Regions from separate parts of the Homo sapiens genome. Here regions 1 and 2 are each linked to region 3. The links come from fine-mapping of genetic effects on plasma protein levels. A gene starts in region 3. Each other region holds a variant in brackets. All regions are shown on one strand. Distances are from middle to middle.

Region 1 (10,564 bases), 33 kb after region 3:
TTAAGATACTTTTTCTGATTGAGCATTGGTAGTGGTAATTCAAACATGAAGTGATTTCTACATGTATTCTACATGCATTATATCATTAGAACCTCTTATCACACTTTAGTTGCAGCTTAGATTGTTAACCTTGTTTGAAAACGAAGAATAGAAACATAAGAAGAATCATATTATTCTCCAAAGTTACCTAGAGATAGTAAAATTCTGGGGCTAGGACTTAGAGGCCTCAAATCTGACTTCATGGAGCTGTTTCTCCACACAAGCTTTACCTAGACTAATGAGTAGTACAATCGGTTCTATACTCTCTTAAAACCTTAGTCCTTCAACAGCTGGAAACACACTGCTTTGCAAATCACTTAAATATCTAGTTAAATTAGTTTTTTTTTTCTTTTTATGCAAACAATGACCCCTGAAAGGAAAAAAAAAAACACCCTGGTACTTCTATGGGATCAAAAAATAGATATTATATAATAAAATACAACAGATGATATAATTTCTGTGATTTCACATCATACAAAGTTGAAACATATATGAAAAATATATTAAAACCATGTGATTGAACATTCACATAAAGTACAAAAGACCAAAGTTTAGAAAATAAACTGCAAAATCCTCTGTTTCTGCTCATATATCTAAGCCTTTTCTCTTGGTCATAAACACTACATAGATAGAGAAAGCAGCTTTGCTCTTAATAATACCTGAGCATTGAAGACCGTTTTCCCCAAAATAGCTTCTACCATACACGCATTCATTCTTTCACTCATTCACTCACTCAATATCAATTTAATACCTAGAATGTTTCAGATATTGAAAGAACAATAACTTAAGATCAATGATTTATAATTGAGAAAGGAAATGTCAAATATCGGTGATGGAGGTTATTCTTACCTAATTTCTATTTTTTAATTTATATACCATTAATACTTTATGAAACACATGAAATAGAAGAGTCTATAACTTTTATTTGTGTATTTCTAACATCTGTCAGTTTCTGGCCCACTTGTTTGTCTAATAAGTGTTTGACTAATGATCAAATGGAAAATAGAATCTGGTGAAGGTGTCCAAACGCAGAAAGGAAGGTGTTTACAGGGAGGACAATATGAGAGCCCAGCACTTTACCTCCTGACCACACAGTAGCAGGTGTTTCCTTAAGGCCTCACACCACCACTAGAGAGCAACAGTTCACAAGCGAACTGAAGGTCTACGTGCAAGAGCCCTTGCAGGAATGCAGAAGAACAGGAAGGCTGTGAGGTGTAGGCCTTGTGTCAGAAATTGGTCTGAGGAGCTCATTTACTCCAAGGCAGTTATTTGAAACACAAAATCAAGTGATGTGCTTTAATTCGCTGGCCCTGTGCCCTCTATTATTTAACCCGATTCTTTCTTCGAGTCATACAAAACAATTACTCTAATTATTTTTTTAAAATATTTTTAAGCATCTGTCCTGATCTGGTCATTGTGCTCAGTATTGCCACACTGCCTATTATTATGTGCCTGCATTCACCATCTGTTATACAGCAGGAATAATGAATAGTTTCATCTTTTAAATTTTAGTTTTTAGGATTATCTCCCCCTCCAAAAACATTGAAATGATTACAATTATATAAATTAAAGTAATTTTGATTTAGGATATCCCCCTACTATTAAATACCAAATAAGACAACTGAATATGCATTTCAAGTTTATGAATGCAAATAAACATATATGTTAATGATTAGGAACCCTCTTGTATTAGAGTCAATTGCCCTCAAGCTGGTAAAGAAATTAGAGTTTCTTTTTCCCAGCTTTATTATATAAAAAGTTTATATGCCACAAATAGGCTAATTTGATTGCTTTATAAACATATTGCCTCTTTAAAATACAAAGTAAAATAACTTGCAAAAGGAACTTGAAATCTGTCAATGTCAATCTGTTCTAGCACAATCTATCCCAAATCTTCAATAGGCCTGAAAACTCCAACATTACTGTAAATTCATTTATTTTCTTTCTTTCTTTAAGGAATAAAAAAGAGAGTTAGTAACTTACTCTGTTAGGCATTGCGCCAAAGTAAGTTCCACTAAAATTTGTGTAAACGTTCAATGTGGTGTTTATTTTTTTTTTCTGAGAATTCCTTGTCCTAAATGATGCTTACTTCCTGTTTAACATTTACGAAGAAAACAATATGCAACACATACTTTAGCTGAAGTTATAATGGAGTTATCATTACAGTTCATTACAGCCAGTCCTTGTTACCCAAGATTAGATGCATAAAAGGCTGATCGCCGGCCCCTGCCTTTTGAAAGCTACCTAATTGTAAACGACAGCATGTATTAGATTGGTGCAAAAGTCATTGCAGTTTTTGCCATAATTTCAACAGCAAAATGAATATGCCTGCTCCCCCCAAAAATGTGGTTGGAATACTCGTAAAAAAGAAGAAAAAAAATTATTCACAGAGGTCTAAAATCCTGAAACCAGCTCAAAGAGTATCTGAATGTTTATATTGTTTTGAATTGAATAAAATGAGCAGTGAAAAAAAACAGACAGAAGTATGTCTGTTTCCAATTTATTCTGTGTCCTGGAAATAAATTTTTTCTCATTTTTTCTTTAAAATGAAATTCACACACACACACACACTTATGGGAAGAAATTAACAAAAGATCTCTAACCAGAGAGTATAAAATTTCAGGCAGTCTCATGAAAATAATTCACCATAAATCCTCCACTATCAAATGATTACATAGGAAACTGCATATTATAGTTACAATTATGAGTACTTTAAAGAAAACACCTAAGAAAGTTAATATGAAACACAAAACAACCCTTATGTGTAATTCACATGAAGAGATTGATAGTGGTAGAGTCAGCGGCAGCATTAGAAGTGGTAAAGATGGTGATGTTGATATCACTAGTATTATCGATACTACTTCTCTAGCAACCAAAGGAAGGAAGTGTATAAAGGAAAAGTAAAGATCAATTACGTCAAATTTTTCTGAGAAGCCCGGTAAGAAGAAAACCGAAAATTAAATATATAATATAGCAACATATCAGTAATTATTTAATACCTTGACAAAATCAGAACAAAAATTATTCTGAGAGTTATCCAGAAGAATAATTACAGCAGAAAAGCCAAGATGGTTTTTCCTCCTAAAGGAAGAAAATGGTGGGGTCTTTAAATGACAGATATTAAATAATGACAATCAAAACAACAATGGTAGTGTCTTCCCAGACAAATTCAATCACCATTCAGATCTCAGCTCAATTTTTAATTTGTGGATAATCAGAAGGGATGTGGACTGACACTGTCAATCATGTGGTTCTTCCTAAAACCCATGTAAAAGCCAATGCGTTCGTCCTCACAGTATTCCAGTGGTTGACATACTCCCCCTCCTTGATTTCCACCATTCTCCTGTAGAAAATATATGAAAAGTGTTGAGGATGTAAACTTAAATCATGATAAATGTTTGGTGGTTAACTGATGCAACAAGAGGAATCAATACAAGACACGCTATTTGAAAAAGTTCTATTTCTCAGGCTAGACCTCCTGGCCAGGATGCTGCCAATATCACCTGCCCAGAAAAAAAGAGCTGGAGATTTTTCAGCGAGCTCAGGCTGAGTATATATTGGACCACTGGAAATGAAATTTTGAGAGGTACAGAGTCACGGTACCTTTCAAAGCAGGGTAAAACCAAAGAGAATATATGGTACACGAAGGTAAGAAGGCTTCTGCTTCTTACTTCTTGGACTTGCTATCTGCATATCACGTCTGCAGTGCCTTTTTCTCTCAGGAGCACTACCATACTTACAAATGAGAAATCTAGAAGAAATCTGGATTATTCAGAGAAGTCCTCTCTGATCACATCTTTTAATATAATCATCCTCGATCTACCCACTCTCGCTCACTATCATATGTACACATCGATGTCTGTATTAATTAAACAAATACTTATTGAACATCTGCTATCACCTGGCAATGTTCTCGGCACTAGGTATATAGCAATTAGTACAAGAAAACTGATGCCCTTATGCTGCTTACATTCAAATGAAGGGAGATAGGCAGCAAACAGAACAATCTTATACTAATAATTCGGCTGGAGGAAAAGTGCCTTGAAGAAACAAAGCAGGGTCCAGGCATAAATATGGGGGTCCAGGGAGTTCTTTACCATTGCTTCAAGACAGAAGCAGAAAGATCACAATTAAAACACTGTTAACGATAGCAGGCAATTGTTGGTGTTAGCGTGAAATGTGAAATACAGTGGTCGCAGTGGACGTATGATTCTGTGTGCATTGCTCACTGAGGGTTAGATGTTGTGTTTAGGAGAGAGAGGACAAAGTTGTCTCAGGAGTTTTTGATATGTGTGAATGTGATAAAACTACCATTGAGATATGAAAAGCTGGAGAATAAGCTGGTATGAAAGGCAAAATGAGAAGATGAGCTTTTAACATTTTAAATTCAAAATGTCAATTTGACACTGAAGTAGAGAGTGTGACTAAGCGGTTGCCAGACAAATATGGAATGCAAAAAGGAGGTCAAAGCTGAAAAACAGGTCGTAAGAATATGGAAGGCATTAATGCTATGGGCTGGATGAGATAATCTAGGAAGCTTGTGCAGATAAAGTAGAAGAAAACAAAGGGGTGAAAAGGGCTTCTTCAGAGAAATGACTAGTGACATAGAAGAAAAGTTTCATGCAAGCCAAACTGAGAGAGAGAAACAGAAAGAGAAAGAAATGGAAATCAAGATGAAAACAGAGAACCAGTCATTAGTTTTGTAAAATGAAGGTCATTGGTGGTCTTGACAGGAATAGTTTAGGGTGCAGTACTAACTACAAAAGCCTGTTTCAAGTGGGTTATGTTTTTTAAATGAGACATTTCAGCATGATTTTTTATTTCCCCAGCTAAATACACCTATTAAGGTGCAGGTGTAGTGTAATCAGAAAAGTAGATTTAATTGCTGGGGAATTATATAAGCCAAATTATATTAGTCAAATCACACAGCTGTGACAAGAGACAGTAATTTCATCATTGTCATGATACAAAGGTGATTCCGCTGTTACTAACAGGATTTTACAATCCCAGCCCACTTAGTGCTCATATAAACACAGATATTTTAAGAAAAACAATTTGTTGCTTCACTGAAATTCAAGGTACGTTGGGTTCTATATTTATTCTTCTTATTAATGTTCTCATTTTATCTTCTTTTAAATTAATTCAATTATTTGCTAGTTTGACATATTTTGTATTAGGCTTTTCTTATACTAAAAAGTGTAACAAACTATGACAATAACCTTGAATGAAATTGTAAACCGCCAATACCTCCAAAAATACCCTTGAAATTTGTAACTTCTTGTTTCTAAGAAAAGAAGTTAAATTGACTTCCTATAAATTACATAGTTTTGTGGTGAAATGAAGAGAAACGTGTATAGGAAACAGATG[C/T]GTAGGAGTTACTTCCTTATTTGGTTGCAAATGAATTCTGAAGTTTCGAAGAAAGGTAGAAGGTGAGTTTTCCTAAAACCAGGACATTCAAAAACCGTTCCAACATCCAAAGCAAGACTGAGAAGTATATTTCCTACAACTGGTTTATCACACGGCTCCTTAGCCCCTTTATTAGAACTTTTCCTTTTATCACCTTGTGTAATTGTGTAATCATATTATTTTATGATCACTTTTTTTGCAGGTAAAATGCTTTATTTATAAGGCTTATATGTATAAAATTCAACTGTAGACACACAGGTCGGAGACTATGTTAATTCATTTTTTATCTCCCATGGTTCTTACTTTCCTGATATTCATCGTGAAGCATGGGGCAATAGTACTTTTTAGTATTAACATGTAGGTAAACAAAGATATTTCCTATTTTATGCATCAATTTAATATTTGATATGTTCTGCTGTACTTCTGGATACAAAGTGCTCCTTGATTTTATCATTCAATTCCATTTGACTCAGTACACCTATGACTCAAACCAACCATGTGGTCAATGGAAAAAACACAGAGATACGGCCTTAGCCACTATAGTCAAAGGTATACATTTTGTCTTTACAGCCACTTTCCTGTCTATTTCTTTGGAAAAAATCATTTGCCTACATAATATGGTCCTGGGAGGTTTTCAGTCAGAATATACCATCCTCCTGGTTGAAATGATTACTTTAAAAATGGCAGATGAAGCTTCCAATGCAATAAAATATTGATCTACATACTCTGATGACAGTAAATAGAACTATGTTTGCTTTTTATCTGTATGACTCATGTTTATGGTTTCCTACAAAATGTTCATTTCTGTGTGTTTATCAGAGAGTCAAAACATTCCTTATGATTATCCCCCAAAAAATGCCAGATGCAAGGAGTTGGAGGAGCAGATCTTGTTGAGATACAGGCTGCAGAGAAATTCCGTTTGCTCATTCTTTTGTAGTATTGATTGGTATGGCTCTTAGGGAGTAAAATGATATGTATCATCCAAAAAATAAATACATCAAGAATGATATCCCAATTTTTTGCTAGGATTTGTCCCCAAATTTCTTCAGGCTGTGTTACAGGTCAGGTTCCTCAAAAACAGACTCTCAGATGAAGGATTACATAAAGGATGTTAAGTACCTGTGGATGAGAAAGAAAGGATTGGGCAAAGGCAGATATTGAATTGTGATGCAGTAACACAAAGGCTTCAGCTAACAGTATAGGGAGCTCTGGAGGTGAGTGCCCTTTCAAGTTTATCTTGATATAAGGCAACAAGTCCAAGCTTTTATACTCCCACACGAACCAGCCGTTTGATACATCTGGCACTGGGAGAAAGTGTGACTTTGAGAAGGCACTTCTGTTTAGCTGAGAGCCATACAAGGAAGATTCAGTTGAAAGCTTCTGACTCCCAGGTGCTGAGACAATGAGGCTTCAGTCCAAAGTGGAGACACACCATTGCACCCATTGTAAATGGAAAACCAGTTTTTAAATCAAAAGATAAGGAAGACATATATATATATATACACACACACACACACATATATATACATATATACACACATATATGCAGATAGATAGATAGATAGATGGATAGATAGATAGATAGATAGATAGATAGATAGATAGATAGATAAATTTTCCTGATCAGACTCCTTTGCTTAGGGCTAGCAGCATATATCCAAAAGTCCATTAAAATATCCAACTCAATCTCCCACATATTCCAGAAACAAAAGTGATCATTTTGATTCTTTTCTAAATCTAATTTTACCCCCTAATTTCTGACTCATTTGAAAGAATACTGCCCACAGTTTTAGGAATCAAAGCATGAAGGCCATCCTTGACTCTCTGTCTGCATTTTTTTCTGATTAAATGACCCTACCTAATAAATCATAGACTGTAATGACTAGTAATGTCTTTAATTCAACAACTTTCCATCATCTCTACTTCCACTGCATTGGTCTTAAAGGCAGTCATCTCTCTATGGTATCCCTTTATTCCAGTTCATCTTGCACCTGTTAGACTGAGTAACTTCCAAAAATTGCACCTGTTAACTTCCAAAAATTAATATCTAATTGCAATTTGTCCCAAATTTATAAGAATTTATTACTTTCTTTCTGCACTTAGAATAATTCCAGACTATTTAACAGCATTGATTTCACCCTGTAATCTGGCTTTGTCTCTTGTTCCATTCTTCAGTCTCACTGTAGTGGACCATTCTTTCTCCCATCTCTAAGACTTGTACATTTTACCCTTGTCTACAAAGTTGTTGTTGTTGTTGTTTTTCCTCTGCCTTATTCACCTGGAAAACTGTCTCATCTTTCACTTCTCAGATTAAATATTTACATAATTTTATAGAATGCCACCTTGAGAATAAATTCTCCAAGATGTGTTCTACATGCCCTCATAATTACCTGCTTAATTGTCTTGCCAGACATGAGCAGAAACAGTGGAATAAAGACCTACAAAAAGCTATTCCTTCATAAAATCAACAAGAACATTGACAAAAACTGTCAAAACAAACTTCCTCAGAATACTGTGAATTAACCAAAGACTTGCAAAAATCTGGCAAGCATTTACTCAAGAAAATAGGTGAATTTAATTGAAAACAGTGACCTTTGTGGAGATTTAACTTGCTCTATTCCTATTCCGTATTCCTCAGCTTCACAGTAGCCTTGAAAAACTATAGTAGGTCTTACAACTATAGTAGCAGTAGTGAACTGTAGCCCAACAGGTCTCAGAGGGGCCATAAAGGGTTTAGAAGTCCCAAAAATTATTCTTAGAGTACTGTCATTATTCAAACTATCAAACATGATCTTGGAAATTCCCACCTACGACTTTAGTTGATCTCAAACAGAGCTCGCTCAGTGCAAATGACTTTTTCCCTAGGGGTATTTGACAAAAACAATCAGCACCTATTGCTGTACATTGCAGCTGCTTAATATGGAATAACAGCTGGGGCAAAGGAAAAGCTGACCAAAAAACTTAAGAGGGAAACTTAAGGGATGGGCTGCCTATAGTAGTTCATTGAAATGATACAAAATATTGATACAGCTTCAATGAATGGAGGAACACCAGAGTCCTTTGTCTCACGCCAATTTAGATAAGACAACATGGACACACATGGAGTGGTTTTAAGGAACAGAGAGTTTAATAGGCAAGAAAGAAAGAAGAAGCTCCCAGCTACAGAGACGGGGGGTCGGTGAGGGGTGGGGGTGGCTCCAAGCAGAGAGAGGAAACCCCAAGTATGGTGGAAACAATCTGTTATATTAGAAGGCTGGAGGAGGTGGTGTCTGATTTTTATAGGCCCAGGGGATTGGTTTGACTTAGTATGTCATTCACATAGCCTGCAAAAAAACTGGCTCTCCCACCCTAGTCTTTTAATATGCAAATGCAGGCCGCCATGATTTTCTGCACAGTGGAGACCTCTGGGGGTGCCATGATGCTTGGCACATGTGGTGACAAGGAGAAGAAGGTGGGACTTGCCATATTGGATGGACCCAGCTTCTAATAGCCAGCATTTGCATATCAAAGCTTGCTGGCTTGGCCCTTCAAGCCATTTTTTTGCTAAAAAAGAAATGTTTCTGGAGCTGCTTTTATTTAAAGAAAAAAACCTTACCAAGGACCACTTATCCTATCTGCCTGAAATAATTTCTTAATAATTTCTATAATAATATGATCATCAATATCATGAAAATGACCACACTGCCCAAAGCAATCTACTGATTCAATGCAATTCCCATGAAAATATCAACATCATTTTTCACAGAACTACAGAAAACAATTCTAAAATTCATATGGAACCAAAAAAAGAGCCTGAATAGCCAAAGCAATCCTAAGTAAAAAGAACAAATCTGGAGGCATCACATTACCTGACTTCAAATTATACTACAAGGCTATCATAAACAAAACAGCATGGTACTGGTATAAAATTAAATACGTAAGCCAATGGAACAGGATAGATAGATAACCCAGAAATTAAGCCAAATACTTATAACCAACTGATCTTTGACAAAATGTACGTAGATTGGGGAAATAATTCAATAAATGGTGCTGGAAAAACTGGACAGCCACATGTAGAAGAAAGAAACTGTATCCCTATGCCTCACTATATACAAAAATCAACTCAAGATGGATTAAAGACTTAAATCTGAGGCTTGATACCATAAAAATTCTAGAAGAAAACCTAAAGAAAAACTCTTCTGAACATTGGGTTAGGCAAAGAGCTTATGATTAATACTCCAAAAGAAAAGGTAACAAAACAAAAATAAATAAATGGGACCTAATTAAATGAAAAAGCTTCTGCACACCAAAAGACATAATCAGAGTAAACAGATAACCCACAGAATTGGAGAAAATATTTGCAAACTAAGCATCTAACAAAAGACTAATATCCAGAGTTTATAAAGAACTCAAACAAATCAGCAAGAAAACAAATAATTCCATCAAAAAGTGAGCAAATTGTATAAATAGACACTTCTCAAAAGAAGATATACAAATGGCCAACAAACATGAAAAATGCTCAATATCACTAATAATCAGGGAAATGCAAATTACAATCACAATGAGATACAATCTAACTCCTGCAAGAATGGCTGTAATTACAAAACTGGAAAACTCTGGATGTTGACATAGATATGCTACAAAGGAAACACTTATACACTCCTTGTGAAAATGTAAATTAATAAAAACCCTATGGAGAATAGTACAGAGATTTCTCGAAGAACTAAAGTAGACCTGCCATTTGATCTAGCAATCCTATTACCAGAATTAACAATCCAAGTTAAATATAAATTAAAAGAATTTGTTATTAGCAGATTTGTCTTACAATAAATGCTACAGAGAGTCCGTCAGACTGAAATAAAAGGACAACTAGGAAGTAACTTGAATCCACATGAAAACATAGAGATCATTGGTAAAGGTAACTATATGAGTAAATATAAAAGACAATATTAATGTATTTTTGTTTAATAATTATATTTTTTTGCTAACTTATTAAAATAAAATTGCATAAAGCAATAATTGTAAATGTGTATAGATGCATACTTTATAGACTTGCATAGATATTTAATGTATAAAGCTGTAATTTATATGGCAACAATAAAGACAGTGGGAGGGTCCAGAGCTATCCAAGAGTAAAGTT
Region 2 (10,564 bases), 12 kb after region 3:
AAAGCAGCTGTGCTGTGTTGAGGGTCCAACCAGCCCCCTCATAACCTCAGACTCTCCAACGCCCAAAAGTGACAACAGTGAAGGCTGTGAAGCAGCACAAATGGCAGCCTGCCTTTCCCTCTGGGAGCTCCATCCTAGGGAGGTACAGACGTGTTGTCAACTGGAAAACACCCGGTGGTTGTAAATCTTGGTTTTGAGATTCCAGCCAGTAAAGAGAAACAGGGTCTGGGATTCACATGGAAAGGCAATCTGGCCACTTTTCTGTAGAGCTGCTGTGCTCTGCCAGGGGACCACTCCAGTCCCTAGTCGCCTCAGACTCCCTGAAGGCAACAATGGCTAAGGCTGTAAGACAGCAAGGATGGTGGGCTATCCTTGCCTCTGGAAACCCCATCCCAGAGGGGTACAGACCTGTTGCCAGCTCAAAAACACTTGTGGAGGTGGTTGTGGACCTCAGTGAGGAGATTTTGCTCAGTGAAGAGAAATGGGATCCAAGACCCACGTGAAAAAAACAGTCTGGCAGCCTCCCTGTAGAGCAGCTGTGCTATTTTGGGGGCTTCTCCAATCCTTAGTCACCTTGGATTTTGGCAACAATGGCTAAGGCTGCAAAACAGCAAAAATGATGTCCAGCCCCTCCTTCTGAGAGATTCATCTCAGGGGAGGTATAACCTTGCTACCAGTGGCTGGCTGGAGTTCCAAGCCAGAGGGTCTTATCCTGTGAGGTGCCATGGAAGCAGGGCCTGCGGACAATCCCTGCTCAGCCCCTTGGATTCAGCCCCTTTCCTAGGGATGTAGAGATGTCTAAATTCCCAGCCACTTTTGCTGGGAAGCCCTGGTATCTAAGGCTCCCAGGGCTCTGCGTGTGCCTGAGAGGCTACTCTTCCAGGACTCCCTGTAGCTCTGTGTGTCAGACTGCAGGCCTTTGTGGGATGGGTTCACAAGGGGATCTCCTGACCCAAGGGTTGCAAAGATCCATGGGAGAATTGTGCTCCCCCAGGTGCTCAGTCACTCACTGCTTCCCTGGGTGGGGAAGGCTCCCCTGGCTCCATGTTGCTCCCGGGTGGGCAGTCGTCCTGCCTTGCTTTACTTCATCCTCCACGGATTGAGTTGTTTTCTTGATGAATCCCAATGTGTGTAACTGGATGCTTCAGTTGAAGGTGCTGTATTTACTAGCCCCTTCTATTTCTCCTGTGAGAACAGCACACACTAGCTGCTTCTAGTTGGCTACCTGCACTTGCTCAATATTATAACTTGAAGAAGACAAAAAAATACTGACAATTTTTTTGGCATTCTAAGACTAATTCTAAATACAAAAATAAATAAATAAAAGCAAAATTTAGGGGGAAAACATTTTCATTTTGGCATGGACTATGCCTGGAACCAGGAGATTTACCAGCCAGTCACCTAAGGGCAGATTTATTACTTAAGTCTCTTTAATCTTGGACTAGATGCTGCTTGGTCTTCATAGGAACAATCACATATTTTAGGAACAGATTTGCCTTCTATGCCTACAGTGCTTCTACTAACATCAATACTTAAGAGTTACAGAATGTCTTATCCATTGTCATGGTTCCTCACACAATATTGTATTTGACATTTTACAACAAAGAAAGATTGACAATCAGTTCATGCCTATAGAAGTTACTTGCCCAGTTGCTCAGGATCTCACACACATTCCATGGGCAGTTGGAGGTGAGCTGCCGCTGGCCACACCAGAGGCTGCAAGACCAGACATGGACAGGTACAAAGAAGAGCTGTGCCACTTGCACAACCCAGAGGAGAATTGATACATCCTTAACGTTGATTCAAGCAGTGATGAGAACCACGGGTCTTCTATGGCCAGAAGAGCTCAGAAGAGACAGTCCAGCTCTATGGTAGTGATCAACTCTGACTCTGATGATGAATGCTACTCCTATGAGGAGAAGAAAGCTAAGATATTCTAAATAAGCAGTGACGATGAGAGTCTGGAGTGTTGTTATGTGCAGCCCACCATCCAGGAACCCTCCAATAGTTATTAGTGATGGTGATGATGACAATGATGACAGTAATGATTTGGAAGTTTCTGTGCCAGCAGAAGATTCGTATGATGAGGACCAAACTGCCTCAGATGAAGAAGAGCTGGATGAGGCTGCTGTCTGCCAGCATGATTCATCTGATGATGCTGGTTGAGCATGATCTTGGTGAGAATCTTAGTGAACCACCAGGTGATCCTGAGACTAAACTTGAGGTTTCAGAGAGGAAGCTGCCAACTGAGGAAGTGCCTGCACCTGTGGTGGAATAATCAAGGAAAAGGAAGGCAAAGACCAAAAAATATCATGGGGTGACTGAGGAAAAGACAGGCAAAGACCAAAAATATAGTGGAGCCACTGAGGAAGAGGAAGGCAAAGACCAAAAATGTATCTGTAACACCTGCTGGTAAGGGACAGAAAAACCGTGGACCTTCAAAGAAGAAACCCGGTGTGGCCAAAGTTGAAAAATGCAAGACTAGGACTCATAAGCGCAAAGTCCCTGGATGTTTCTTGCTTGACCTTGAAAAGTCAAAACAGTACTCTGGAAAAAAATCTCAAGCGAAATAAGGATGAACTGGTTCAGAGAATCTACGACCTGTTTAACAGCTCCGTCTGTGATAAAAAGCTACCAGAGAAACTAGAGATCAGCTAGAATAAAAAGATGCTGAGAACTGCTGGCTTATGCAGCACTGGCAGGAATTACAAAGCAAGGCAGAATTCTTAAGGTTATCTGAGAGTATATTCGTGTGAGCTAAATCCTTTACTGGTAAGAAGTGTTAGAAAAGTTTGTTTTTGTGAAATTAAGGATATTAGAATTTAGATACTGTTAAGTAATATTAGAATTTAACATTCATGTTATTAACCATGATTGACCTTAACAAGGGGCTCTATTGCTAACCATTCTGTGCCCTTGACAGGGTAGATCTGAAGCCCTTGGGATCTACCTTGGGTCTTACTTCAGCTCAATAGTTTTCACACGTAGGACAAAATGCAAAAGAAAAGTGAGTTTTCAATAGTGGCAGGTTGAGAGAAAGAAGAGAATGCTGGATGGGAGGCTGAGGCGGGCGGATCACGAGGTCAGCAGATCGAGACCACCCTGGCTAACACGGTGAAACCCCATCTCTAATAAAAATACAAAAGAAAAAAAAATATTAGCCGGGCATGGTGTTGGGCCCAGCTACTTGGAAGGCTGAGGCAGGAGAATGGCGTGAACCTGAGAGGCGGAGATTGCAGTGAGCCGAGATCGCGCCACTGCACTCCAGCCTGGGAGACAGAGTGAGACTCCGTCTCAAAAAAAAAAAAAAAAAAGAAGAGAATGCTGGAAAGAGGACAAGTTTTAGAGGCAACACTTAAAAACCAGGGCTACTGTGACATCTACCTAGACAGGAAAGATGAACATGTTTCATGAAGTTCATTGCTGATGACACTGAATGAAACTATCTGAGCCATGTAATCAAAAAATAGAATGTTTTCTGCATCTCAAAAAAAAAAAAAGAAGTTACTTGCCCCTAAGTAACTGGCTAACCAGGGTATTGAAATGACTTCCTGAAAGCACACTAATGACACCAGTTGGAATAAAACAGCTTGCAAGTGTGGGATTCAGTTTTTTAAGAGGGGGTATTTGCCTTACCAATATATGTTGCTGTCTCTGCCATAGCCAGAATGTACAGGTATGGGAACAAAAGCATAGAGTTAGGATTCAGATTTGGAGTAGCCTTGTACTAGTACACCTAATAATTCACTTGAAAATTGTCTCCTTTTCCCAAGATCTTGTTTGTGCTGGGTTTAGAGGTTCTAATGCCTATGGCAAGATTATTCTAATAAGGAATATGACCATTATCCTGATGAACAGGAAGATGAGACTTCCTTGTTGCACGTTGGGCTCCGCAGTCATTGAAGCAGCTGGCAGAGAAGAAGATTGCTGTGGCCAGGCGCAGTGGCTCACAGTTTAATCTCAGCACTTTGGGAGGCCGAGGCGGGCAGATCACCTGAGATCAGGAGTTCGAGACCAGCCTGACCAACCTGGAGAAACCCCATCTCTACTAAAAATACAAAATCAGCTAGGCGTGGTGGCGTGTGCCTGTAATCCCAGCTATTCAGGAGGCTGAAGCAGGAGAATCACTTGAATCCAGGAGGCGGAGGTTTCAGTGAGCTGAGATCACGCCATTGCACTCCAGCCTGGGCAACAAGAGTGAAACTCCATCTCAAAAGAAGAAGAATAAGAAGAGGAATAAGAAGCAGCAGCAGCCGCAGCAGCCATACAGGCAGAAATTGGGTTGCTCTTACACATTGTGGTAAGGACTATGCCTGGAAGCCAGGAGATTTACAGGAGCGTATTTTAGCACCACTTTCCTCATAGTCTTGGTAAATACAATGCTAGGCCAACCCAAGAAACACACCAATAACTTGGATCCAATATAATGATAATCTAGGTCATTGCTTGATCCACACACTTTGTACAATTAGCTGGACAGAGTCAAAGAAAAGAAAGATGGAGTGCGTAGCAAGCTATACCTTGTCTCCTGCTACTCAAGTGGTATCTGCTGACAGAGAAATAGACCTCAACCACACAAAAAATCCACAGAAGTCCATCTGCGGCTCAGATAGAATCATCCTGGATATAGATAGCTCCTATCCCAGAGTCCTCTTGTCAAATCTTCTCTCAGAAGTTAGTGTAGAAATGATTAATCAAACCATAGCATGTTGAGACATTTCTGTTACTTCCACAAATAAATTTTGAATTCATTGAAATAACTGGCTTTTTACATTTAAGCTAGAAAGTAGTATATTAGAAAATAGGTAGGATTTGCCTTGTCAAGTTAAT[T/C]TGAAGGTGCAATTTCTATAGTTCTTGTTATCATCATGATTTATAAGAAAAGTATTCTTGTTTCATTTTATTTCTTTTTTATATTCTTATTGGTACATAATATTTTCATGTATCTCTAAGGTACATGTCATATTTTGATACATGCATCGGTTGTGTAATTATCAAGTCAGGGTGTTTAGGATATCCATCACCTCAAGCATTTATTATTTCTTTGTGTTGGGAACACTTCAAATCTTCTCATAACTATTTTGAAATATAAAATACATCGTCGTTAACTATAGTCACTCTACTATTCTGTTGAACACTAGAACTTATTCCTTCTAATTGTATGTTTGCATACCTCCCCCCTCCCACACACACACACACACATCCTTCACAGCTGCTAGTAACTATCATTCTACTCTTTACCTCCATTACAATAACCTTTTATGGTGGCAGCAAAGGGTGGGCTGGGCGGGCAGCCCTCGGGCCCCCAAAGGAGTGCAGATGTCAGCGGTGGTGGAAAGGCGGTCCCCAGGCCACTGAATGATGCACTTGGGCACTTGTGGGCCGTACCAGGCTTTGCGGGTCCAACCTCAGGCCTCCTGATGGTGCACACAGGCTGTGGTAGGTGGGGCTTGCGAGCAGCCAGGCTGGGTCTTCAGTCAGGCCTCCTGATGGTGCAGGAGCATACGCGGAGCTACGGGTGGGACAGGGCCATGGATCCCCAGGCCCCTGGGCAGTGTGCTCAGGCACTGGGAGAGGCTTTGCTTGGTGGTGTGGTCCTACCCTCAGACAACCCAATCCCCTATGTTGTGCTCAGGGCTCAGGCTGTGGTTGGCAGAGTGGGCAATCCCCAGGCGCCTCCCAGCGGCGTGCTTGGGTGGTGGCAGTCCCGGCTGTGGAGATGGCAGTGGGTGGAGAAAGCCTGTCGGTGCGCAGCTGCTTTGCTATTGGGAGTCGGGGTGGCTGTCAGTGGCAGCGACCTCACTCAAGTGGCTGTCAGGCTCTGGGGAGCTTGCGTTTTGGCTCCCTTTGACTGGAGGCAGCCTCCCCAGTGCACTGCACTGCCGATTCCCCCGGGGTGTAGAACACCTTTGGGGCTAGAGTGCCAGGGACCCAGCCACACGGCTGGCACCAATCAGCCTTGTGCCACTACAGCCCTCCCGGTGTGTGGGGTGTTGTGGGGGAAGTGAAGGATGTCTGCGGGGCTCCAGGGATGTGGAGATGCGGAAGCTGTTGAGACCCGAGGCAGGATGAAGTCTTGTTGGGGCTGGGCTCCAAATAGCCTGGTCCAGGAGGTGTGTGGGACCTCGCCTGAGCTCCGTCCTGGAACAGTGCTGTTGCGCGGTGCAGGCTCCAGGCAGCTCCCCATCCTAGTCTCGGGGCCCCCAGGGCTCTCCCATGGCTACGACTGCAGGAGTCTGCGGTGGGAATGTGGACACACTTTCCCTGCACTAAGAAGTCTCTGGGCTCCCAGACAGTTTCAGCTGAGCTACCTGCCTCCCCTCTGTCTCTTTCCTGCCTCAGAGCTTTCCTGTCGCTTCTCTGCTTAATTCGAATGTGTTCTTTTAGATGCTGTATTCCAAGTCTGATTTTCTACTGGGTGTTTTGGTTCTTCTTTGTGGAGGAAAGTACTGAGGGCCTGTAGACAGCCATCCTGAAGCCTCTCTCGGGGGAAAAATGTTTTCTTCCTCCGTATCATGAAATGTGTGAAAAGAGTCGAAATTGCGACCTTGTAAATTTGTTATTCTATTTTTTAAAATTCCAGCTGGGCGTGGGGGCCTGCGCTTGTACTCCCAGCTACTGGGGAGGCTGAGGTGGGAGGATCACATGCACAGAAGTTAAAAGCTGCAGTGAGCCCTGATCATACCACCGCACTCCAGCCTGGCTACAGAAAGAGTCCCCGTCTCGAAAATAATTAATTAATTTTAAAATCCTACAAGGTTTTTAGGAAGGAATTTTTGGTTAGATTTATATGTCAGTTAAGACATAAAAGAACCAGCATGGCACATGTATACATATGTAACTAACCTGCACATTGTGCACATGTACCCTAAAACTTAAAGTATAATAATAATAAATTAATTAATTAAAAAAATAAAAAAATAAAAAGACATAAAAGAGGGAATGCCATGAGACTGGCAGCAGGTTTCCACAGTGCACTTTGCTGCAAGGATATTCCCCCAAGCCTGGAGGGCAACCCAATGGCTGACCACCCACTCTGTGATCGGCCCATCCCCCATGGAAGTTTTACCTCTTGATGATGAATGCTCTCATATCCTCCAAGTGTACAAGCATTTGAAATGCTTAAACAACACTACAAAATTAAATGAATAAGTAACTGATTTGACAAATACGGTCAAACTGCATTAAAAGAGAAAGCAACAACAATATTCTGTCTCAAAACTGCCCCTGCTTATTAGGAAGTCAGACTGATTTCTTCCCACATCATAGGCAATTCCCATAAGTTTTCCATTCTCTCTAAGGTAATAAATATTATCCTCTGTATTTCAGGTGATAAAATATACCCCAAGGAACATGAAACAGACTCCCTGTGGGTAAAATAACAGAAACAGACAAACAAATGAGAAACCAGAATCTGATAGATAGCAGGATGAGGGACTAGTCAGGTATCCCAGGGTTATTAATTGCCATAAGTTTTCCTTCCCATAATTAAACAGGAAGGAAATACTGAAAAGCATTGCCAAAACAACCATAGCTGGGAAATTTCCAAAATATCTTGACAGATTGCCTGATGCCAGCGGACAACCTTCTCCCCAGCCTTGCTGTCCTGCCATAAGTCAGACTGTCCTACCATAACTCAGATTGGAAAAAGAACCCAATCTTTTTTTTTTTTTTTTTTTTTTTCCTGAGACGGCGTCTCGCTCTGTCGCCCAGGCTGGAGTGCAGTGGTGCAATCTGGGCTCACTGCAAGCTCTGACTCCCGGATTCACACCATTCTCCTGCCTCAGCCTCCCGAGTAGCTGGGACTACAGGCGCCCGCCACCACGTCTGGCTAATTTTATGTATTTTTAGTAGAGACGGGGTTTCACCATGTTAGCCAGGATTGTCGTGATCTCCTGACCTCATGATCCGCCCGCCTCGGCCTCCCAACGTGCTGGGATTACAGGCGTGAGCCACCGCGCCCGGCCAGACCCAATCTTATAAACATTCTTTATTGATGAATGGCCACAGACCTTAAACCAGTTACAGACAGCTTGTGGAGATTATGTACAAACTATTTTTGTACGCTATAGTTCACCTTTTGAGGTAAAGAGCCAAATTCCACCCGATTTAATGTTAAAACACCATCCCAAAGTGACCGTGGGGTGCATGTTACATCTGCTTACCCAATGCACTAGTGCTTGACTTCCTTCATGAATATTCATAAGTATTCACAGAATTTTCCCAACCCTGCTCAGTATGTATGTAAAACTGACTGTATAAGACATGTATACCAGCCCCCTCTCACTTCTTCAGAGAGTGAACTTTCGGATTTTCCCGAAAGCTGCATTTCCCTAATTCTAGGGTTATTTTTCCCTCTGAAAATAAAGTCTTCTCCTTTCCTTCCTTTGTGGATCTCATGGTCTTTTGATAATGAAGATAATAAAAGATCCAATTCCGCCTAATATCTTAAGTCCAACTTTTATCTAATTTAACACTTTTCCTCTCTCTCAGCTTGGATTGGATCTGCTTAGTTTGGGACCATTAAGGGGGCAAGTGAGTATAACGGGCTCTGCATGAGCTTCTTCCCTCTCTAGTATCTCTTTCCATTCCCCAACCCTGATCCCCAGAATGAGTGAAGGTGAAACAAAGGGAATAGAAATAAACACGGAATAAAGATGTTACCAGCCTGGACAGTTTTAATCTGTATGCTGACACTCCAAATGTTTTCTCTCTTTTTTTTTTTTTTTTTGGACTACTTCTATGGGTTTTTCAGAAATTCTGCTCCTGGGGTACTCTGCAGTTGTCTGATGTGTGATGTCTCCTTTGGCAATCCTGCTTGCAAATCACTGTACCTCACCCCTCACAACTCCCCAGGTACCTTTTTTTTTTTTGCTTTCTACTCTATACTTCCAGCTTCTTTTCATTGAGGCTGACTTGCCTGTGGTAAGAAGCAGTCTTAGGTGAATTTTATTTTAGGATGGTTCCCAAATGGCTGCTTTGTATGAGATCTTCATCCGGCCCACAGGAAACACTCCCTTCAGCCTCACCATTGCTGGAAGTGTGGCTTAATCTACACATCTGCTTTTACTCTGTGGTTATGTGTAGTTCTAACAAACTCACATACTGAAAGTGTTCACCTCTGCAACCTCCAACTCCCAGAGGACACTTGCCAATATATGACAGAATCCAAACTTGGCTTAAGGTAAAAGAGAAGTTCTTTTGCTTATTGACACAGAAAGATATTGGGAAATGGGAAGTACACTGGCAAGTCACTTCATAAAAAAAATTCTCACTTCCTAATCTCTGAACACTCATAAACTCTTAATGTGCTCTGAAAGTAGATGATAGATCGAAATTTGAAATAAACACTTTTGCAAGCTTGTTAGCATGTCCTATATAGGAGGTCTAGCACCTATAGAATTGTTCTTGACATTTGTGCCCTCAGATAAAAGTAAACAGCAGGAATGACCACATTTTAATATCCTACTAGTCATTCAATATTTATGAATTATTTTCTGAGGACTTATTACATGTCAGACACTGTTTGGGGAGTCTATTTTAGACTTCAAACATCTTTTAAAAACAAACATTTCATTAAACTATAGGTGAAAATTTAAGCATATAGTCATTAAGTTTGTGAATCAGACCTATCTTGGAGAGGAATTTAATTTGTTTAAATTTATCAAAGGACACACAAAAGATAAGCCCTAGTTATTCTAACCACTTATTAACACAGCTACCTGCGATTTCTGGGAGCTTAACTTCCGTTCAGGCTCAGAAACTCTAATTTTGGGAATATACTTGGACCACATTGTTAATTTGGGAGGATTCAGATAAAGTATGAGAAATGCATTCACATTTGACTATGAGAACATCAAGTTATATTGTATAATACCAAAAATAATGGTCCCTTGAATATATCCAGGATGACCTACAAACAGAATTGTTCCTAGATAAAAACCCTCAAGCTTGTAGAAAATCTATGTTGACACTCACTATTCAGATGTTGTCATTCACAACTCTGAGTTTCAGTGATTTAATGATGAAATTTAGGACTGAGAAGCTTGTTTCTTGCAGATTTATCAACCTTGCTAATTGATCTTTATGTCATTCTCCTTTTGTATACTTCAGGTAAATAAATAAATATTTGATTTATTCATGGGGTGATTTTGTTTGATACATTAATCCATAGGCACAGTCAATATTTTCAAAACAGTAGTTTTACATCAAATAAAGCAGCATTAAAAAAAACAGATTTATCAATAGAATAACAACTTTTGAAAGTGGAACTTATTTTTTTAAATCAATTTTCTTAACCTAAGTTTAAATCTAAGTAACCCGCTTTTTCCAACAATAATAACAATTTATCTTTGAATACTACACAAAATCTCATGACATAATCAAAATTAACTGGGGTATATGGATGCTTCTTTCAAGAATTGGTATCAATTCTGCCTTCTGGAGCCAGTAAACTAAGCGTAACATCAATATGACAGCTGTTGGAACAATTTACGTTAACAAACTTATTCCCAGCAGCCCTTTTCCTGATTCTGGCTAAGTAGCTTTAGTTCCTGGAAATAATACT
Region 3 (10,564 bases):
ACTCATGAACATGCACATGCATTTACAGATAATACATGTGTATCCACATAAACACTTTCTGATTAATCATTAATATAACATTTACAAGTCCTTTGAGCCTTTTTTATTTACTAAGGATGAATCAGAACTAAATATGGCTTTAGGTATCCTGCTATTTTAATCAAAAAAACCCTAAAATCCTTTGTAAGTCATGAATAATATTTCATCTTCTTATTAAATGCTAAACTTTTAAGAACTGTTTTATTTTTCATAGACTTACACTGTCAGGTTTAAGATAAGAGTGCTTGTTCAATGATTATTATTCAAGAAACTGCTATCATTGGACAGACAGTAGAGAGTCTCATCCAGAGGATTTAGGTCTGCTGGGCACTGACTTACGAAATTACATGAATAATTATGTTATACTGAATAAGTGAATATCTATACTTTGTGAAACATTTTGTCCTTATCAAAGATAATTTATGTAAATCTATCATAATAATTGATAAGAATCCTCTATTGTAACCGAAATTATTCTTATTGTTCAGTCAATAAATTGAATTATTAATGCTGAAATTTATATTCTAAATACTCTTTAAACCTGAGAAAATAGAGAAACTACATTTGACGCTGTCAAGCCCTGTCAAGAAAGCACATGATGAACCCTATAGAATGATATTTTAGATAAATAGTTCGCAGGGTTTCTCTTATCATAACATTGTCAAAGATATTAAAATAATTTTATCAGAATTCATTTAATGAATACTCCACATTTCTGAGATTATTTTTGAATTTTTGATATATTAATATTGATAAGCAATAAATTCCAAGAAATCAAGCATGTGTCTTAAAAAAGTCATATATTTATTTTAAAACTTAAAAAATAATTATCAGAAAACATTAGGAAAAAAAGTTGTGGAAGGTGGTTGAAATTCAACTCAGACTGAATTATTTCTCCTAAGCACTACAGGTTGTAGTGAGCTGAGATCGCGCCACTGCACTCCAGCCTGGGCGACAGAGCGAGACTCCATCTCAAAAAAATAATAATAAAATAAAAATAAAAGTAAAAAAAAATTTTAAAAGATGCTGAATAATGGAGAAAGTAAAACTTTCATTATCCTGTGTTTTCTCCTATAAGGAAATGGTTTAATTTAACTTATAAAGGTTAAAACACAAGCCTTTTAACCACCCAAAACCAGAAATAATAAAATGGAAAACCAAAATCAGTCTTATGAATGTCTGTACAAAAATGGTAAATACATTATCAGCAACCAAAATATATTATAACCATGATTGGTTTATTCTAGGAATATAAAGATTATTCAATAGGAGGAAATCCATATTAATATTATATTAATAAAGCTAAGGAAAAAAATCTATCATCATCTCAATAGATGTAAAAAATGAAATTGATAAAATCTTATATCTTTATGTTAAAAAACAGAAATTAATAGATACTTGTTCAACATAATAGTTTTATGTCTAATGAAGCTAACATCTTATTCAATTGAGAAAACTGAAAGAAGGTTTTCTGCTTAAGTCCAGAAAAAGAAAGATAGCTCAAATCTCCACTACTTTTTAATACGAAGAGGTAATATATAATTCAATGAAGAAAAATATTCTAATTACAGGTAGAAATATTAGAAAAAGAAGGTAAAATTATTTGAAGGTAATGTGAGTGCAGATTTGGTAAAATAAAAGAATCAATTGAAAAACTACCGTTAATTCCAGAAACAAAAAATAGTAGCTGCATTTATAAAAATAACATACTAAAATCAGTGCCCTGTATAATCCAGTAACCACTGTGAAAACATAGATGAAAGAAATTCATTACTCACGGATAGTTAACCAAAAAAAACAAACAAAAAGAAAACTAGACAGAAACTCGACAAGTGTCCCAACCCAATACAAACAAAACAAAACAAAACTAACCGAAAACTGAGTAACATTAATTTGATCATGTGCTTGGATAAGAAAACTATGTGTCAAAAATATAAATTCTCCCTAAGCTTAATGACAGACTAGGAAGTAATTTAGACGTAAAAGCTACATCGGGTTGTTTTATTTGTTGTTGTTTGTGGTGAGTGAGCCTGAATAATTTTTTATAAAGTTATCTGAAAGAACAAAAGAGTGAGAATAGCTAAGTAAACACTGGAAATATAGAAATACAAAATGGTAAATTTTATGAAGGGTGCTGGATTTATGCAAGGTGGATTTCTCTGAAAGTAATTTTTTAAACTTTTTAAATTCTTATTTATTTATTTGAGACAGGGTCTCGCTCTGTTGCTCAGGTTGGAGTGCAGTGGCACCATTAGAGCTCTTTGTAACCTTGAGCTCCTGGGCTCAGAGATCCTCCCTCCTGAGCACCCTGTGTAGCTAGGACTACAGGCATGTGCCACCATGACTGATTAATTTTTTTATCTCTATTGTTTGTAGAGATGGGGGTCTTGATTTGTTGCCCAGGCAGGTCTTGAACTCCTGGCCTCAAGCGATCATCCTGCCTCGGCCTTCCAAAGTGCTGGGATTAATGGCATGAGCCACCACACTTGGCCCCTCATTATATAAGTTTGACTGAAAATATGTAAATGTTTTATGCTACTATAAAGTAAGTTAAACAAAAATGAAAAAAAATCCATAAAAAATGAAGAAAAGGAATCTAACTAGGTATTGTTAGTGTCTTCACTATAGAGAGAGGAATTACTTAAAGTGATTTTAAAACATTTAACTGTGCATGCTCAATGGAATATATCTTAAGGATTTTTTAAAACCGCAAAACATTTTAATCTGTTTTAAGTAACTATTATTATAATATTATTTCTATAGTGATTCTGAAACTACTACATATGTATAGTGGGATAGAGCAATTATGTAATTTCTTACTATCACTGGCAACAAAGGTTTTTCAATATATGAGAAAAGATTTACAAATATGTCATCACAAAATTAAGTTAAATGAATGAACATCATAACCCCAAGGCTCACATTGTCAATCTAATTCACATAAAATACGTCTTACCTCAAGCTTTAATAAATATTAGCTAAAGGTACAAGACATAAATATTAGTATGTGTCACTTAAATATCTGGGAGCCGAAAATCTGCACATTTTTGCTTCAGAGAGACATTTATGAACAGAGTGTGGAAAAAAGTCTGCAGAGAAGTCACTACATGTTGTAGTCTTTCAGGTTTAATATCTCTAATTTCCAAAAATGAAATAAAAATTGAGTGTAGGAAGTAAAGACTTGAAAATATGGGAATCTAAAAATTCACATGGAAGAGGCAATAAATTTCTTATACATAGCACGTATGTAACTCTAAGATGAATCACTGATGGATGATACTTGTGGAAGGACTCAAGAGATAAGTAAAATTTTCATGGGTGAAGTTATTAAAAGAGAAATATTTAGAAAGCAACAGAACAGAACAGACAGTCTCTATAACTGTGATTATTTGTGTCTTTAATTTCTGCTTATCTCTTTTGCCAAATCACATTAAGGTGGCATGATGGAATTGCATTGTGTATGGAGGGTATGCTTGAAGTAGCAAATTAAAATGTTGATTGCTGGTGTATAAACTTTATTTTGAGTCAACTTGGTGAAAAGCATAAAGTTTTTGAGAAGTTGAATTAAAAATTAGTATTAAAGGCTGGGCGCGGTGGCTCATGCCTATAATCCCAACACTTTGGAAGACTCAGGTGGGTGGATCACCTGAGGTCAGGAGTTCAAGACCAGCCTGGCCAACATGGTAAAACCCCATCTCTACTAAAAACGCAAAAAATTAGCCAGGCATGGTGGCGGGCACCTATAATCTCAGCTACTCAGGAGGCTGAGGCAGGAGAATTGCTTGAACCTGGGAGGCAGAGGTTGCAGTGAGCCGAGATCATGCCATTGCACTCCAGCCTGGGCAACAACAGTGAAACTCCGTCTCAAAAAAAAAAAATAGCATTAAAACACCATATTCTATGAATGATAAGGAGGTGAATGGCAGCAAATATTCACTAATTTGAAATTATTAATTTTAATTGAGTATGCATATTTCCTCAGAGAATGTCCTTAAGAAATTATATCAGACAAAATATTACAAGTAAGTGTTAGTTCCACATTGATAAATGGGAGAGAGAGAGATTATCTCATAGTAAATTTGTAAGATTAAATGAAGGAACATAGATAAAACATTCTGTATAGTGCCGGAAACTGGTGTTTCTTAAATGGTAAGAGAGGTTGTTATTTTTAAATCATTATTAATATTGAAAGAGAGGACAGGTGAGAGAGATACAGAGACGGAGAAAGAAAAGCACCCAAATACTGAAACAGTCCAATAACACAATGGAACAGGATACGGGAAACTACCATGTTAATTCACACCAATTGAAAAAATGAAATTAAATTCCATACCTTTAAATGTAAGTTGAGATGTTTGGGCAGAACTCCTTTTCTTTGACTGTACATTCAATGTCATGTATCTTTCTTCATCTTGCATCTTCAATGTGAGTGAATGTGTGTGTATACAGGTATGTTTTGTTTTATTAAGTATAACATGAAATGAGGAAAGAATAATAAATCTGCTGCTAATCAGAGATGCTCCTCAAATTGTCCTTTCACAGTACATATGAGGGTTCACAGTTTCACTTATTTGTGAAAACCTCAGAGGAAATGTTTTCTTTTTAAAAGTTGCTTTCCCATGACATAGATAACACATAATTTCTCAACTGTCCACCACATATTGAATTGAATATTCTTTTGAGTGCTTTACAAATTTCTCTTAATTTACCCTTAAAGTCAAGGGAATGGAAATTATGCCCCTTTTTGAGGTGAGGTTAATAATATATAGCTGCCTTTTGTTATAGCCTAAATATTTATATCATTTGAATTAGCCTCCCTAACATATTGATATTTAATTTAATAATTTGCAATTGCCAAGCAATTAAATTCTTTATCCTAAAACAATATTGTTTATAAATCATGCTAATAATTTAACAGTATAATTTGATTTTTTTTAACTTTTAGGTTCAGGGCTACATGTGTAGGTTTGTTATATAGGTAAAATCATGTCACAGGGGTTTGTTGTACATATTATTTCATCACCCAGGTATTCAGACTAGTACTACATAGTTATGTTTTTCTGATCCTGCCCCTCCTCTCACCCTCCACCTTCAAGTAGGCTCCGGTGTCTGTCATTCTCCTCTATGTGTACATGTGTTCTCATCATTTAGATCCCAATTATTAGTGAGAACATGTGGTATTTGGTTTTCTGTTCCTCCATTAGTTTGTTAAGGGTAACGGCCTCTAGCTTCATCTATGTTCCTGCAATGGACATCATCTCATTCTTTTTTATAGCTGCATAGTATTCCTTTGTATATGTGTATCACATTTTCTTTATCCAGTCTACCATTGATGGGCATTTAGGTTGATTGCATGTCTTTGCTATTGTCAACAGTGCTGCCATGAACAGATGCATGCATGTGTCTTTATGATAGATTTATATTCCTTTGGGTATATACCAGTAATGGGATTGCTGGGTCAAATTTCTGGTTTTAGGTCTTTAAGGAATCACCATGCTATCTTTCATAATGGTTGAACTAATTTACACTCCCATCAAAGGTGTATAAGTGAACCCTTTTCTCCACTACCTCATCAGCATCTGTTATTTTTTGACTTTTTAATAATAGCCATTCGACTGGTATGAGATGGTATCTTACTGTGGTTTTAATTTGCATTTCCCTAATGATTAGTGCCTACTGGAGGATAGAGGGTGGGAAGAGGGAAAGGATCAGGAAAAATAACTAATGGGTACTAGGGTTAATACCTGGGTGAAGAAATAATCTTTACAGCAAACCCCCATTACACAAGTTTACCTATGTAACAAATTTGCACATGTACTCCCAAATTTAAAATAAAATTTTAAAAACACAATATACCCTTTTAAATAAGATAAACTATTAATTCAAGGAGAAAATATTTGACAAATTATCAGAAATATATTTGTTGCTTAATGACAAAAGTAAAAGGATAATACATTTTTGTGTTATTTTTGTTTATTTTTACTTGCTAAATTTTGTTCTTTAATTTATAATTACAATTTCTTTGGCCATTATTTGACACTCCAAATGGATAAGAAGTAAATTAAGATTGATAAATAAAACACGAAAAGTATCTGTTCATGTCCTTAGTCCACTTTTTAATGGGGTTGTTTATTTTTTGCTTGTTGATTGGTTTAAGTTTCTTACAGATGCTGGATATTAGACCTTTGTCAAATGCATAGTCTGCAAAAATTTTCTCCCATTCTGTAGATTATCTGTTCACTCTGTTGATAGTTTCTCTTGCTGTGCAGAAGCTCTTACAGTTAATTATTTTGTTTGTTTGTTTTGTTTTGTTTCACTTTTGTTGCAATTGCTTTTGGCATCTTTGTCATGAAATATTTGCCCATTCCTGTGTCCAGGATGGTAATTCCTAGGTTATCTTCCAGGGTTTTTTATATTTTGGGGTTTTAGACATAAGTATTTTATCCATCTTGAGTTGAGCTTTGTATATGGTATAAGGAAGGGGTCCACTTTCAATCTTCAGCATGTGGCTAGCCAGTTATCTCAGCACCATTTATTAAAAAGGGAATCCTTTTCCCATGGCTTGTTTTTGTCAGCTTTGCTGAAGATCAGATGGGTGTAGTTGTGCAGCACTATTTCTGGGCTTTCTGTCCAGTGGTCTATGTGTCTGCATTAGACCATTGTGTTCCAATGGTCTATGTGTCTGCTTTTTTTTTTTTTTTTACCAGTACCTTGTTATTTTGGATATTGTAGTACTGTAGTATAATTTGAAGTTGGGCAATGTGATGCCTCCAGTGTTGTTCTTTTTGCTTAGGATTGCCTTGGCTATTTGGGCTAATTTTTCTGTTCCAGATGAATTTTAAAATAGTTTTCTTCTAGTTCTGTGAAGAATGTCATTGGTAGTATGATAGGAATAGCATTAAATCTGTAAATTGCTTTGGGCAATATGACCATTTTAATGATATTTATTATTCTGATCCATGAGCATGGAATGTTTTTCATTTGTTTGTGTCATCTCTGATTTCTTTAAGCAATGTTTTGTAATTATCCTTGTAGAGCTCTTTCACCTCCCTGGTTGACTGTATTCCTATGTATTTTATTGTTTTTGTGGCTATCATAAATGGAATTGCATTCCTGATTTGGCTGTCAGCTTGGGTGTTGTGTATAGGTGTACAGGAATGTTGGTGATTTTTGTATGTTGATTTTGTATCCTGAAACTTTGCTGATGTTGTTTATCAGTTGAAGGAGCTTTTTGGCCAAGAGTATGGGGTTTTCTAGGTATATAATCATATGGTCTGAAAACAGGAATAGTTTTACGTCCTCTCTTCCTATTTGGATGCCCTTCATTTCTTTCTCTCACCTGATTGCTCTGGCAAGGATTTCCAATACTATGTTGAATAGGAATGTTGAGAGTGGGCATTCGTGTCTTGTGCTTTTCAAGGGGAATGCTTCCAGCTTTCACCTGTTCAGGATAATGTTGGCTGTGGGCTTATTACAGCTGGCTCTTATTATTTTGAGATGTTTCTGCAATACATAGTTTATTGAGTGATTTTAACATGAAAGCGTGTTGGTTTTATTGAAACCTCTTACTGTTTCTATTGAAATAATCATGTGATTTTTGTGTTTAGTTCTGTTTATGAAATGAGTCATATTTATTGAGTTGTGTATGTTGAACCAACCTTGCATCCCAGAGATAATGTCCACTTGATCATGGTGAATTAGCTCTTTGAGTGGTGCTGGATTCAGTTTGTCAGTATTTTGTTGAGAATTTTTGCATCTATGTTTTTCAAGGATGCCGGCCTCGAGTTTTCTTTTTTTTGTTGTGCTTCTGCCAGTTTTGGTATCAGGATGATGTTGGCCTCATAGAATGAGTTAGGGAGGAGTCCTTTCAACTCAAATTTTTGGAATAGTTTCCATGGGAATGGTACCAGCTCTGTACATCTGGCAGAATTTGGCTGTGAATCCATCTGAGCTTTTTTTGGTTGGTAGGCTATTTATTACTAATTCAATTTCAGAGCTCATTATTGGTCTGTTAAGGAAATCAATTTCCCCCTGGTTCGGTGTTGGGAGGCTGTATGTGTCCAGGAATTTATCTATATCTTCGAAGTTTTCTAGTTTGGTATACATAGAGGTGTTTGTAGTAGTCTTTGATGGTTATTTATATTTCATGGGGGTCAGTGGTACCATCCCCATTGTAGTTTCTAATTGTATTTATTTGAGTCTTCTCTCTTGTCTTCATTATTAGTCCAATGAGAGACTTTTTTTTTTTTCCAAAAAACCAACCCCTGGATTTGTTGATCTTTTTGATGTTTCTTTTGTATCTCAATCTCTTTCCGTTCAGCTCTGATTTTGGTTATATTTAGTCTTCTGCTACCTTTGAGGTTGGTTGGCTCTTACTTCTCCAGTTCTTTTAGTTATATGTTAGAGTGTTAAATTTGAGATCTTTCTAACTTTTTTGTGTAGGCGTTTAGCGCTATAAGTTTTTCTCTTAATACTGCCTTAGCTGTGTCTCAGAGATTCTGGTATGTCGTATCTTTGTTCTCATGAGTTTCAAAGAATGTTTCGATGTCTGCCTTAATTTCATTATTTATCCCCAAAGTCATTCAGGAGCATGTTGTTTAATTCCCATGTAATTGCATGGTTTTGAGTGATTTGTTTTGTCTTGATTTCTATTTTTATTGCGTTGTGGTCCAAGAATGTGTTTGGCATGATTTTGCTTTTTTTGTTTTTTGGTTTTTGAGTTTTTGTTTTTTTTTTTTGCATTTGCTAAGAATTGTTTTACATTCAATTGTGCGGTCAATTTTAGATTATGTGGCATGTGGCAATGAGAAGAATGTATATACTGGTTTTCTGGGTTCGGAGTACTGTAAAGGTCTATCAAATCCATTTGGTCCAATGTCAAGTTCAGGTTCTGAATATCTTTGTTAATTTGCTCCCTTGATGACCTGTCTGGAGTGTTAAAGTCTCCCACTATTATTTTGTAAATATTTAAGACTCTTTGTAGCTAAGAACTTGCTTTATGAATTTGGGTGCTCCTGTACTAGGTACATATATATTTGGGATAGTTAAGTCTTCTCGCTGAATTGAATTTATTATTATGTAATGTCCTTCTTTGTCTTTTTTCATCTTTATTGGTTTAAAGTCTGTTTTGTCTGAAATTAGGATTGCAAACCCTGTTTTTTTTTACTGATTTTCATTTGCTTGTTAGATTTTCCTCCATCCCTTTATTTCAAGCCTGTGTGTCATTGTGTGTGAGATGGTTCTACTGAAGATAGCATACCATTGAGCTTTGATTTTTTATCCAGCTTGCCACTCTGCACCTTTTAAATGGGGCAGCTAGTCTGTTTACATTCAAGGTTAGTATTCATATGTGTGGATTTGATCCTGTCATTGTATTGTTAGTTGGTTATTATGCCAGCTTGTATCTCCCCATCCCTTTCAGGGATGTCGATGATTTGTAGATTTGGCGCCTTTACATAATCCTATATTTCTCAAAGATTTTGTTCCTTCCTTTTCATTCTTTTTCCTTTGTTTTTGTCTGACTGTCTTATTTTAGAGGGCTAGTCTTCAAGTTCTTCAGCTTGGTCAATTCCACTGTCAATACTTGGAATTGTATTGTGAAATTCTTGTAATGTGTTTTCCAGCTCTAGCAGATCAGTTAGGTTCTTTTCTATAGTGGTTATTCTGTCTGTCAGCTTTTGTATTGTTTTAGTGTGATTCTTAGTTTTCTTGGATTGGGTTTTACCATTTTCCTGAATGCTGATGATCTTCATTTCTATCCATATTCGGAATTCTATTTCTGTCATTTCAGTCAGCTCTGCTGGTTTAAAACCCTTGTTGGATAACTAGCGCAGTCATTTGGAGGACATAAGAAACTCTGGCCATTTGAGTTGCTGGAGTTCTTGTGTTGCTTCTTTCTCTTCTCTGCATTTGAGTGTTTCTTTAGCCATGATGTAGATTGCATATAGTCAGTAGACTTCTTTTCTGGATGTATTCACAGGGTTGAGGCTTTGTGCAGGGTCTTTACTTGCAACTGACTTGTCTTTGGTCTCATAGTGGAGTGGGTGGTATGTTAGTGAAGTAGTTTGGTATTAAAGCTTTGGGATGTGATGCAGTAGGTTGTGCTTAGGCAGAGTGTTCAGTTGGTTGGCTCTTGATCAGTTGTGTGGCTCCCTTATATTTCTTCACAGTTGCAGCCATGCTGCCTCTCAATGCTCTGAAAGTTTGGGATCCTCTCCCACTTGAGTGTTGGCTGTAGATTATGGCTTGTCATTCCTGGGCTTTCCCCCACAGCTCTGGGGTGATCTCAGTGTTTATGTTTCCTCTCCAACTTGGAGGCAGCAGCAGAAGGGACCTTAGGAGTGGTTGTGGCTGAAGGTCTTTTATTTACCTCCTAGGGGCTCTACCCCAGAGAGGTGTGGGTCAGCAATTGCTCAGTGCAGTCTGCCCAGGATGGGGGTATCTGTGCTATGGGCCCAAACCAGGGTTTCTCTGCTTGGTGATGAGCAGGGGAAGTGTGCAGGACCTGTGGGAGATGAACTTTGCT

Alleles and levels. Positions count from the first base shown, and alleles are read on the strand shown. Strength reflects both the effect of a copy and how common the allele is.
In carriers of allele T in region 1, the plasma level of the protein whose gene starts at base 4,521 in region 3 tends to be lower than with C alone (weak association).
For the plasma level of the protein whose gene starts at base 4,521 in region 3, allele C in region 2 goes with a higher level than allele T (weak association).

What was found. A credible set is the group of variants that fine-mapping cannot tell apart. PIP is the posterior inclusion probability: the model's chance that the variant is causal. The UK Biobank Pharma Proteomics Project read protein levels with antibody pairs (Olink). The fine-mapping took linkage between variants from a reference panel, not from the people measured, so its PIPs are less certain.
Region 1: its variant is the best candidate, but not a certain one, in a credible set for the plasma level of the KLRF1 protein (UK Biobank, PIP 0.78).
Region 2: its variant is the best candidate, but not a certain one, in a credible set for the plasma level of the KLRF1 protein (UK Biobank, PIP 0.89).

What each region holds. Positions count from the first base shown.
Region 1 is chr12:9,788,823-9,799,386 of GRCh38, reverse strand. No RefSeq gene overlaps it. Among named protein-coding and RNA genes, the nearest start is that of CD69, 33 kb to the right of the region's middle. RefSeq lists an enhancer at 1,234-1,333. The variant C/T (reference allele first, on the strand shown) is at 5,407.
Region 2 is chr12:9,809,484-9,820,047 of GRCh38, reverse strand. It overlaps a transcript of KLRF1 not described here and the pseudogene GCNAP1. Among named protein-coding and RNA genes, the nearest start is that of KLRF1, 13 kb to the left of the region's middle. The variant T/C (reference allele first, on the strand shown) is at 4,831.
Region 3 is chr12:9,821,438-9,832,001 of GRCh38, reverse strand. KLRF1 (killer cell lectin like receptor F1) reads right to left here and starts at 4,521. Exons shown (of 6, transcript NM_016523.3): 1 at 4,373-4,521. The coding sequence starts at 4,457.